Regions from separate parts of the Homo sapiens genome. Here region 1 is linked to region 2. Evidence: fine-mapped expression QTL. A gene starts in region 2. The other region holds a variant in brackets. All regions are shown on one strand. Distances are from middle to middle.

The links. PIP is the estimated chance that this variant, and not a neighbour inherited with it, causes the effect.
Region 1: its variant is the best candidate, but not a certain one, in a credible set for the expression of MYEOV in lymphoblastoid cells (GEUVADIS, PIP 0.75).

The regions. Positions count from the first base shown.
Region 1 is chr11:69,260,999-69,266,374 of GRCh38, forward strand. No RefSeq gene overlaps it. Among named protein-coding and RNA genes, the nearest start is that of MYEOV, 30 kb to the right of the region's middle. The variant C/T (reference allele first, on the strand shown) is at 2,808.
Region 2 is chr11:69,291,133-69,296,466 of GRCh38, forward strand. It overlaps MYEOV (myeloma overexpressed), which reads left to right and starts at 3,023. Exons shown (of 3, transcript NM_001293291.2): 1 at 3,023-3,444; 2 at 4,101-4,363; 3 at 4,460-5,334. The coding sequence starts at 4,223. The coding sequence ends at 5,260. RefSeq lists an enhancer at 1,594-2,145.

The sequences.
Region 1 (5,376 bases), 30 kb before region 2:
ATTGATGATGGCATTAGGGGTGATTGCTCCCCTGCCTCCTCAACTCCACTACCTTCTTACAGAAACTGGTAGCCTGTCTAGAACTCCTGTGTCTCTTTTAAGACTTAAAGTACCAAATGACAACAGCATTGGCTGGGGCAACTTGAAGAGGTATGAGGGGTATTTGAGGATGCGGCTGGCATTCCTGGACCCCTCCACTTTTGCTGATTATGTCTACAGGCCAGTCTCCTGCCCCATCTCCTGCACCCCCTACAAAGGAGGAGATTGTTCTCTGGTTTCTGGCTGACCTTGAGGGATTATTCACAAACACAGGGATCACATTCACATCTCGCCACCAGCATGGTCTCTGGGACCCAGCTGCAATGTTAAATGAGAGGGCAGCCTGGAACCTGGGAGGATGGGATCTTCGGGTCTGCTTCTGCCTGTGCCTGGAGGGCTGGGCCTCCAGGATGGGTCCTGACTCTGTATCATGGTCCACTCCTCACACCAAATGTGTTCTAGATACTGGGTGGCCCCAATCCCACCAGAAGACGGGGCAGTGGCAATTTTTCCAATGATCTCAGGGTGGAGATTTCTACCTCTGATCTTCGGGGTGGAAATCCATGAGATCACTTTTCTTTTTTTTTCCAGGCCTTCAATGCTGGGCCTCTATCCTGCCCACGTGGTTGGTGGGGCAGATTCGTGGCTCTCCTCAACACCTTCATGGATTAACAAACAGTCTCATGCTCAGTAAATGGAAAGTCCAGTCCAGTCTAAGTCAGAGCTTCAGTCTTTTTTTTTTTTTTTTTTTTTTTTTGAGACGTAGTCACGCACTGTCGCCCAGGCTGGAGTGCAGTGGCACGATCTCGGCTCACTGCAACCTCTGCCCCTCCAGGTTTAAGCAATTCTCTGCCTCAGCCTCTGGAGTAGCTGGGATTACAGGCACGTGCCACCATGCCCAGCTAATTTTTTGTATTTTTAGTAGAGATGGGGTTTCACCATCTTGGCCAGTCTGGTCTTGAACTCCTGACCTCGTGATCCACCTGCCTTAACCTCCCAAAGTGCTGGGATTACAGGCATGAGCCACAGCGCCCGGCCAGAGCTTCAGTCTCTTATCCCATGTACACCCTCTTCCCCACTCCACGGCTCCTGCTAGGGTGGGCAGCTGTCATGGGGAGGGCCTGGGCTGTGGTTTCTGCTGCATTCTTCCTTTTTCCTTCTTCCCCCATGAGGCTTGGAGTTTCTCCTCTGGCGTGTGCCTTTGATGTCTGGCTTTGGGCCTTTCCCCATTGGGAACCCCTAGCATGAGTCTCTGGCCCTGGCCAGGTGCCTTCAGCTAAGGGCCTGTGACTGCTCCCATCCTGGGCTCCTCTCTAGGGAGGGCCTCAGGTGGCTCCTGGTGGTCTCTCACCCTCATAGGAAATGTCCTTTCAAGATGACCCACTCATGGCTTCTTTTCATGGCTGTCCACCATGACTCACTTTCCCCTCCATGCCTGAAGATGGCCACCCCGAGGGCAGCTCTGGCCACCCCTCATTTAGGCAGTGCAGGCAGGGGTCAGCACCAGGCTCTGCATCCTCCAAAACTCTAAAATCTCCTGCAGACCCTCAGAGATGCTTCTGAGGACCCCCTCACCTGGCCTGAGATGCGAGTGAGAAGAACACCTCTCTCTTCACTGTCAACACAAGTAAATAACAAGTATTGGTGAGGATGTGGAGAAACCAGAACCCTTGTACACTGTTGGTGGGAAGGCAAAATGGTACAGCCACATTGGAAAACACTTTGGCAGTTTAGCAGATGGATGATCCATCCATCCATCCATCCATCCATCCATCCCTCTGTCTATCCATTGATCCATCCATCAATCCATCCCTCCATCCATCCATCCATCCACCCATTCATCCGTCTGTCCATCCATCCATCCATCCATCCATCCACCCATCCATCCTTCTGTCTGTCCATCCATCCATCCATCTGTCCATCCATTCATCTGTCCACTCATCTGTCCATCCATCCATCCATCCACCCACCCATCCTTCCACCCATCCATCCTTCCATCTATCTATCTGTCCATTCGTCTGTCCACCTGTCTGTCCATCCGTGCATCCATCCATCCATCCATCCGTCCGTCCATCCATCTGTCCATCCATTCATCTGTCCACCCATCTGTCCATCCACCCACCGTGTCTGTCCATCCATCCATCTGTCCATCCATCCATCCATCCATCCATCCATCCATCCATCCGTCCATCTATCCATCCATCCATCCATCCATCCATCCATCCATCCATCCATCCATCCAACCATCCACCCACCCATCCATCCATCCATCCATCCATCCATCCATCCTTCCATCCATCTGTCTGTCCATTCATCTGTCCATCTATCCATCCATCCATCCATCCATCCATCCATCCATCCATCCATCCATCCATCCACTCACCCATCCATCCACACTCACTGAGCACCTGCTACATCCTGCTCAGAGTCTGGTGGGAAGACAGATGTGTAAACAGACAATGACAACTCAACATCCAGGGCCATGATGGAGAATCATTTCCCACTCTAGGTTCTGAAAGCAGTAGTCCAGTACCCTTTTCCTGCTCTGGGCTGTGTCTCCGTGTAGCTGATATGACTCTGATGATGTCATCCTCTAGACCTCAGTTGCTCTTCTGGAGTTACAAGGAAGCAGAAGAAATTCATTAGGTGCCCCGAACTTGAGGGCAGGGCCCAGACCAGGGCACTCCTGGCCTGGGTAAGCCCTGGCTTCCTCCCTGACCAGCTGTGTGACCTCAAGTCTGTCACTGCCCCCACCCCCGACACCCGTC[C/T]CCACAGCCCCCACCATGAAGAGACTGGGCTGGCTGCTTTCCAAGATCACTCTGAATTCTTGTCTGGGAGCTAAGATATTTCTGTCATGTGCGGAGCAGGCTGTCCTGCTTCCCAAGCCCAGGGCATTTTGCACCTCTGTGTTTCCTCCTGCCCTACTGCACCCTCCCACCTGCACTGGGCCATAGCATGTACTCAGCCCTCCCCTAAATGTTGCACTCATGCTCTGAATCCCAGCTCAGAAGTCATCTCCTGGGTGGGTTCCCTCAGTGCCAGCAGAACCCCTGCCCTGTGTCCCAGTCATGGAATATGCCCCTGATGTAGCCCTTATTCCATCTCATGCTGGCCCTTTTGGCAATGGAGTCTGTGGGGCACCAGGACAAGCCTGAGGGGTTTGCCAGAACGTGAGGCTCCGTCCTTGCAGGTGTCCCAGGACTTTTGGCTGCTCTGTGACCCCCTGGGTCCTCAGCCCTCTTTGAGGCCGTGTGTGGCCATGTGAGGCCCCAGACCCTGTGACAGAGGCCTCCCCACACCTCCTGAGTAGAAAGAACGGAACAATAACAGGGCAGATGCGGCGCCTTTGCCCTTCAACCCTGGGGCTGTGTTTTGCAAAGGACCAGAAGGATCAGAAGGGTCTGAAGGGTCTGAAGAGAACCGAGCCCCAAATGCCCCACACCTGGCATCAAGGAGGTGACTAGGAGGCTCCTAAGGGTGCTGAATCACTAGCTTCCCTGGTTGGGCCTGGCTGAGGGAGGCAGGGGTTGTTGGCAGTAAGGAGGGAGGGAACAAGGAAGCATCTACAGGGAATGCCACCCAAGACCCAAGATTTGGCCTGCCCTGGGCCCTGGGGAGGGAGCGGCTACACCAGAGCATGGCCTTCAACCCTCCCCTGGCCGCTGCTCCCCTCCAGCGTGTATCTGCTTTGGGTGGGAGGAGCAAGGTCACTGTCTTCCTTGCTGGGGTGGCTGGGAGGGAATGTGCCCTATCTGTAGACACCAGGCAGCCAGAGAGACCCTGCTGTGTGGGAATGGTCTGGATGCCAGCATAACCTGCAGTCTCACGAGGAAGAGCTCACAGACAGAGTGTAGGTGCACACAGCCAGAAGCCAGGGGCAGATGTGCAGGATGTTTACGTGCCCTGTCTCTTGCTCTGCTGCCCATGTCCCTCACTGGCCCCATGGCTCTGAGGCCCAGAGAATGCAGTGCAGGGACTCTCAGTACTGCTGAGTGCCTACTGTATGCCTACTATATGTAACCCGGCACTGGGTGCCTTGGGGCCTCCAAAGCAAGGCCCCGTGACCCTGTTCTAGAGCTCACAGCCACGACTGAGGGCTGGGATGAGGGGCAGGCTGGTATATAATGACAGTGACCAGCCGAGGGTCTCCAGGCCCTGCAGGAGCCTCAGCTGAGGAGCTCAGAACACAGAGTAAGGGTCCCGCAGGTAACAAAGTTGGGGCTCCCCATTCTCACCCCCAATATGTGTTTATCAAGCACACCACAGTGGGGCCAGCACTGCAGTGAACAATCACACACACGTGTGACGTCACCCTCTAGAAAGGATGGAGAAGAGAGGGAGGGATCAGCCCTGGGCAGCCAGGGAAGGACCCTCTGAAGAAGTGACAGGCAAGCTGTGGGTGGTGGGGACCTGGGAGGGCAGGGAAGAGGGACAAGAGGCTAGACCACAGCTGGGGCTCAGTGACGTGGGGTTTCATGGGTCGTGCAAATGATGAGGGATCTTATCCTGGATTTTGCTAAGTGCCCAGTGCCAGGCCAGCCTCTCGGGCAAGTGACCTGTGTAGCTGCACCAGCCCCTGGGTCAGTGGGGCTCTCTCAGGGTTCAAAGCTCTGCTACCACCATCTATCTTTCTTTCTTTCTTTTCTTTTCTTTTTTTTTTTTTTTTGAGACAGAGTCTCACTCTGTTGCCCAGGCTGGAGTGCAGTGGTGCGATTTCGACTCACTGCAACCTCCACCTCCCGAGTTCAAGTGATTCTCCTGCCTCAGCCTCCCAGGTAGCTGGGATTACAGGTGTGCACCACCATGCCCGGCTAATTTGTTTTGTATTTTTAGTAGAGACAGGGTTTTGCCATGTTGACCAGGCTGGTCTTGAACTCCTGACCCCAGGTGATCCACTCGCCTTGACCTCCCAAAGTGCTGGGATTATAGGCATGAGCCACTGTGCCCGGCCCTGCCGTCACCATCTAGATGCTCTTTAATAACTTTGAACAAGGCGTCCTGCATTTTCACTTTGCACTGAGCCCCTCAGGTCCTGCCCACACAGCTGCTGCTTGCTCAGGAGCCCAAGTCTGGCCATCCCCTCGTCTTCCCGACCTCATGTGAGGGAGGAGGGAGGGGGCTGCCTTCTCCACCAGGCGGGCATGGAAGTTTGCCAGCCTCAGATTTTCAATTAATTGCCCACGCCCCTGGAAGATAATTGCCAGGACTGTTTGCCTCCATGTGGGCCTCAAGGTCAGTTGCCTGGGCAGTCTTGTTAGGGAGGAGGAGATAAAGGGGGCTCTGGCCTCTGTTTCTCGTGGAGGTGCTGCCTGGGGTGCCCATCGCAGGTGAACAGGG
Region 2 (5,334 bases):
CTGCCCTTTGGCTCAGAGGAGGAGTGTCAGAGAAGGGGTCACAAAGACAGCTCTGTAGGCTGAGCCAAAAGCAGTATAGGGTAATGTTAGGAGCAGGTCTTGGTGCAACTGCCTGGGTGCCCCTAGGTTCCACTGCTAACTTGCTATGTGACTGAGCCACTGTACACTTTAGTTTCCTCCTCTGTAAAATGGGGATAACAGTAGTCCTAGCCATAAAGTTGTCATGAGGATTAAATGAAATAGTGTGGGAAAACTACTGACATGTGGTGCATGTTCAGTACAAGTTATCCTCACCATTATCATCATCACCACCATCATCATCATCATCACCAGCATCATCATCATTACCGTCATCACCATTACCATCATCACCATCATCATCATTACCATCATCACCATCATCACCATCACCATCACCATCATTATCACCACCATCATCACCATCACCATCATCATCACCACCATCATCACCATCATCACCAACATTATCATCAGACCACCATCATCACCATCATTACCACCACCATCATCATCATTATCATCTTCACCATCATGATCACCATCATCATAACCACCATCATCACCATCATCACCACCACCATCATCACCATTATCATCCTCACCATGTTCACCATCATCATCATCACTATCACCACCACCACCATCATCACCATTATCATCCTCACCATCATCACCACCATCATCACCACTTTCATCACCATCACCGTCATCACCATCATTATCACCACCATCATCACCATCACCGTCATCACCATCATCACCACCATCATCATCACCATTATCATCCTTACCATCATCACCATCACCATCACCACCATCATCACCATTATCATCACCATCATCAACGCCATCATTATCACCATCATCACTATCATCACCATCACCATCACCATCACCAACTCATCATGATTTAACAGGTGGGCTGGCAATCTGAATGTTGAAGACAGAGGGAGAAAATCAACCTGGGGCAGTCAGATTTCTACAGTCCTCCCCAGCAGGACCCAGGTGGGCTACTGGGAGTCCCAGAAGCAGATATCAGCCCAAAAGATGAGCTTTGATAATTAGAGTGAGGCTATGGTGAGACTGAGTGACACTGCGGGGTGCCAAAATAATCTAGGGTTGTTGGAATGCTGACAGCAGACAAAAGTAAGATAAGGTATCTCCTGACACCACCTCCTTCCATCTGCTCTCAGACGGGGCTCTTTGGAGAGGATCTGCCAGGAAGAACTGAGGTCTTATGCCACCTCCACCTCTACGTAACCTCAAACAGGCGTCATCTTGTCTCCTGGCCTCAGTTTCCTCATCTGTAAAACGGGGACACATCAGGATCTGCCCTCAGCAAGTTGCTGAGTGCCTGCCCTGAGCAGCCGGTAGGTGGCGCTGATGGGCTGGTGGTTGGGTTGGGGGAGGCTCGCATAGGGTCTCTGGAGGTCCCAGTAGGGCACTGGGGAGACCTCCCCTGATTCCCTGGAGGCAGAGCAGAGCTCTTGTCTTTGCAGGAGCTGCAGATTCTGCCTTGGGTATCTTAGAAGCTTTGTACAGGCATCTCCAGCTCAGTGGGAACCAAATGCCATCCTATCTCCCCACCTCACTGGTGTCACCATCTTCCTGGGAGCTGTCTGGATAACCCTCTCCCTGGCCCTCACCTTTAATTTGTCCCTGAGTCCCATCAGGGTCACCCTCCATCCCACTGCCATCTTCCTGGGAGCTGTCTGGATAACCCTCTCCCTGGCCCTCACCTTTAATTTGTCCCTGAGTCCTATCAATCAGGGTCACCCTCCATCCCACCACCATCTCCCACCTGAGTGAGAATGGGAACCTCCTCTCCCACTCCCTCCAATTCCCCTCCACTACAGCTGGGGGAGGCTTCTAAAATGCCAAATATAGCCCAGTTTCTGCAACTTGCAGGGTCCCCAGCCCTCGGGAGAAAGTCCAAACCCCTGACAAAGCCTGTGAAGCCCCCTGAGGCCCTGTGGGTCTGGGGCTAGCTCTGGGCTGCAGCCCTGTCTCTGGTCATAGTCCAGCATCCACCACGGTCCAGGTGCACTGAGCTGCCGGCCCTCTCTCCCCTCCGCTGGCTCCTTCCTCCTGACTGCCCGTCTTTCCCTGGCCTCTCTATGCTTCCCGCTGGCATTGACGACAGTGTCCTGGAGAGCTGGGCAGGGAGGGCTGCCTTGGGTTCCTACTGTGTGCTCCACCTAGTGCTGGTCTTGGCCCTTAGCAAGTGCTCAGTACACCCGTGTGGAATTGGGCGGTGAGGGTAAAGGGAGGAGGAGGGAAGGGCCAAGAGCTCCCTGTGCTCAATGAAGAGAGGGACTTGAGCAAGTACTCATTTTTAGTACTTCCCAAGATGTGTACAAGAGGCCTGGGGCCAGCAGAACTCCTTGCCCCTGCCCATCCCCCTCCAGTCTATGGGGTCCACCCCCAGCTGCCCAGCTGTGAGGCCTCCATGGCTCAGCTCCTCATCTATTAAGTGAGGACAGCAGTCGTCCCCCTCACAGCGAGGCCACGTGGGTTACATAACTTTTTCTTAGGGTGCCTGGCCTGCAAGAAACCCCTAAGAATGTTCTATATTCCTAGGCCCACTGTTATTCTTAATATTACCCAGGAAAGGGTGGTGAAGCGAGTAAATAAATGAATAGGTGAATGAATAAATGAATGAATGAATGGCACCCTAGCCCCACTGTCTTCTGGGTGGCTTCAGGATCCTTGAGGAGGTTGGCCGTGTAGGTTCCCCTCAGGTAGGACCTAGGTGAGCTGGGGAGTCTTAACTCACCCAGGGCAGGCCTTAAGGTTGGGCACACCCATGTGTGGGCTCTGCCCTGGCCTTAACCGAGAGAGGGAAATGTTGACGGGGAAGAAAGCCCTGCCCACCAGGCAGCCCCACCCACCTGGGCTAGCCCCACTCACAAGCAGCCCCACCCACCTGGGTTAGTCCCACCCACCAGGCAGCTCCGCCTACCTTGGCTATCCCCCTCTGAGTTCTTGCCTTGATTCTCCTGTTACTGTCCCGCGAACCCACATCCCTACAAAGCAGGAAAGTATGCTTGGGAGAGGCCAAGTGAGTGGGGAATCAGCCCAAAGCCAGGCGTCCAGGGTCTCCCTCACCTGAAGCTGACTTTTTCCCCACCTTGGACAGAGGGCGGGAGATGCCATCCCCACTGAACCCAGTGCTTTCACCAGCCATATTAGCTCCCACTCACCCCCCGTCGTGGAAGCCTCGGCCGTCACACCTGCAGGGCCGGGGCGTGCATGGCCTCAGGGATGGCCTGTTCAGCTGCTGGGTGACTCGGGTCCAGGTGCCTCACCACCTGCTGAGCTCTGTGTGATTTCTGGACACTTCTGCTCGTTGCCTTTGGGCTCAGTGAAGAGTCTGGAGTTTATCTGGAGTGAGGTGGCCGGTTCTTGGTGGGATCTGAGCAGGTAAGAAGCAGGGTCTTTCTTATGTTTTAAGGAAAGCCCTGTGGCTGCTGGGTGGGGGACCAGCTGGAGGGGCAGGAGGGCAGCAGGTGACTCATTACAAGGCTGGGGCCATCATCCTGTGAGAGCTGGGCATGACCAGTGCAGGTCAGTGGGGTTGAGGGTACAGACCAGTGGGACCCACAGACGGCTCGGGAGTGACCAAGCCTCTGCTGAGCTGCCCAGGTCCCCTCTGGTGGACACCTCCTACCCGGAGCCCCCCAAGGTGGTGCCAAAGCTAGACCACCATACAGCCAGAGGCCTCCAGGCCCTACCCACGACAGCCCAGCTGGCTTCTGCCCAGCCACCGTCACACACAGAGGGCAGCCGTCCCCATGGTCCCTAGAGGCGGTTGAGGACCACTGTGCCTGGAGTCATCTGTGGCTATAAACCAGGAGGAGAAGGCTGCCCACCCCCTGCCCCAGAGATGGGGAGGCTGGGGCCACCCGGTGGATTTGGGCAGGTCCCAGCTTCCAGGATCATGAGGTGAAAACGTGAAGGGACCCTAGAGGCCATGGGGACCCAGGCACAGAGCGGCGGCCTCTCATCCTCCCCATGGTCAAGGAGGTCAGTGCCTTCCCGGGGTGGATTACGGATGGTAGTATCTTCCTTCTCCTCAGAGTCCATTCAGGAGCAGGAAAGTTCATCTCAGACCCTAAATCCAGCCACGTCATGCCACGCTTAACACCTCTAACAACTTCCCCTGGCACTTAGGACAGCGTCTGGCTCCTTCCCTCGGCTCATGGCCCTCAGAATCTGCGTCACATACACCCCAGCTCTCCCGATAGGTCTCTGCACTCGCTGTTGCCTCTGCCTGGAACAGTCTCCCTCCTGGTGTCATTGTCTCCGTGGTGTGTCCTTCCTGACCTTCCACCTCCACCAGGTGCCGACACTTCCCTGACCCCAGTAACCTCTTCTCTTGGGTGGGTGAATGCCACCTGCTGATGTCTGATTTATTCATCGGTTTTCTTGTCTGTAGTCTGTCCCCCTTGGGGACAGGGACTCGTTGCTCATGTTCACCCGGCAGGCTGGACACTTCGTGGAGGGCTCCAAAGCCGGCAGATCCCGGGGCCGCCTCTGTCTCTCCCAGGCCCTGCGTGTTGCGGTGAGAGGAGCATTTGTGTCTCTGTGGTTTGCTGCTGGAGCTGGTGACCGGGAGAGAAACAAGGGAGACAAGGGTGCCCAGACAGGTGCGGGGCTCAGCCAGGAGGCAGAAGACGTGGACGTGTCCCGGGCCAGGAGGGTCACAGATGCACCACAAGGCACTCTGTGTGGCACTGGGAACAGGAATTCTGGGAGTCAGTCTGCAAGGGTGGTGGGCGTTGCTCACCTGGGAGAAGCCTTTAGAGTGGGCGTTGAGCAGGCCATTAGCTCGTGCCCTGAGGAGGTGCATGGGCGGCATGGGCTCTCCATGGAAATTATGTGGGCGCGAATGGATGTGGCTCTGCGCTCACCTGGGCGAGGACTTCTGGCCGGTGCCGGGGCACTCTGCATGACCCTGGCAGAATCGAGCTGCCCTGACTATGAAAGGGGAAGAAGAGCATGCCTGACCCTCCACCGGCACCCCACCCCTCACTGCTCCACCTGGGGCCTGCCTCTGCGGGTGGCTGGGTCCTGGCTGACTGTTGTGACTGTTGAGGCCCTGGGGGGGTGGCGCATGGGAGTTAGGAGGACTGGCCAGGTGGGGCCCACTATGCACCCACCCCCAGTGTCAGGTGCTTCTCCTCTCCTCCTCCACCACCTCCTCCTCCTCCTCCTCATCATCATCCTCACTTGTTGAGGACGTCCTGTGTGCCAAGTGGTTTATATGCCCAGCCTCATTTAATCCTCAGAATGACTCCATGAGGTAGCTAC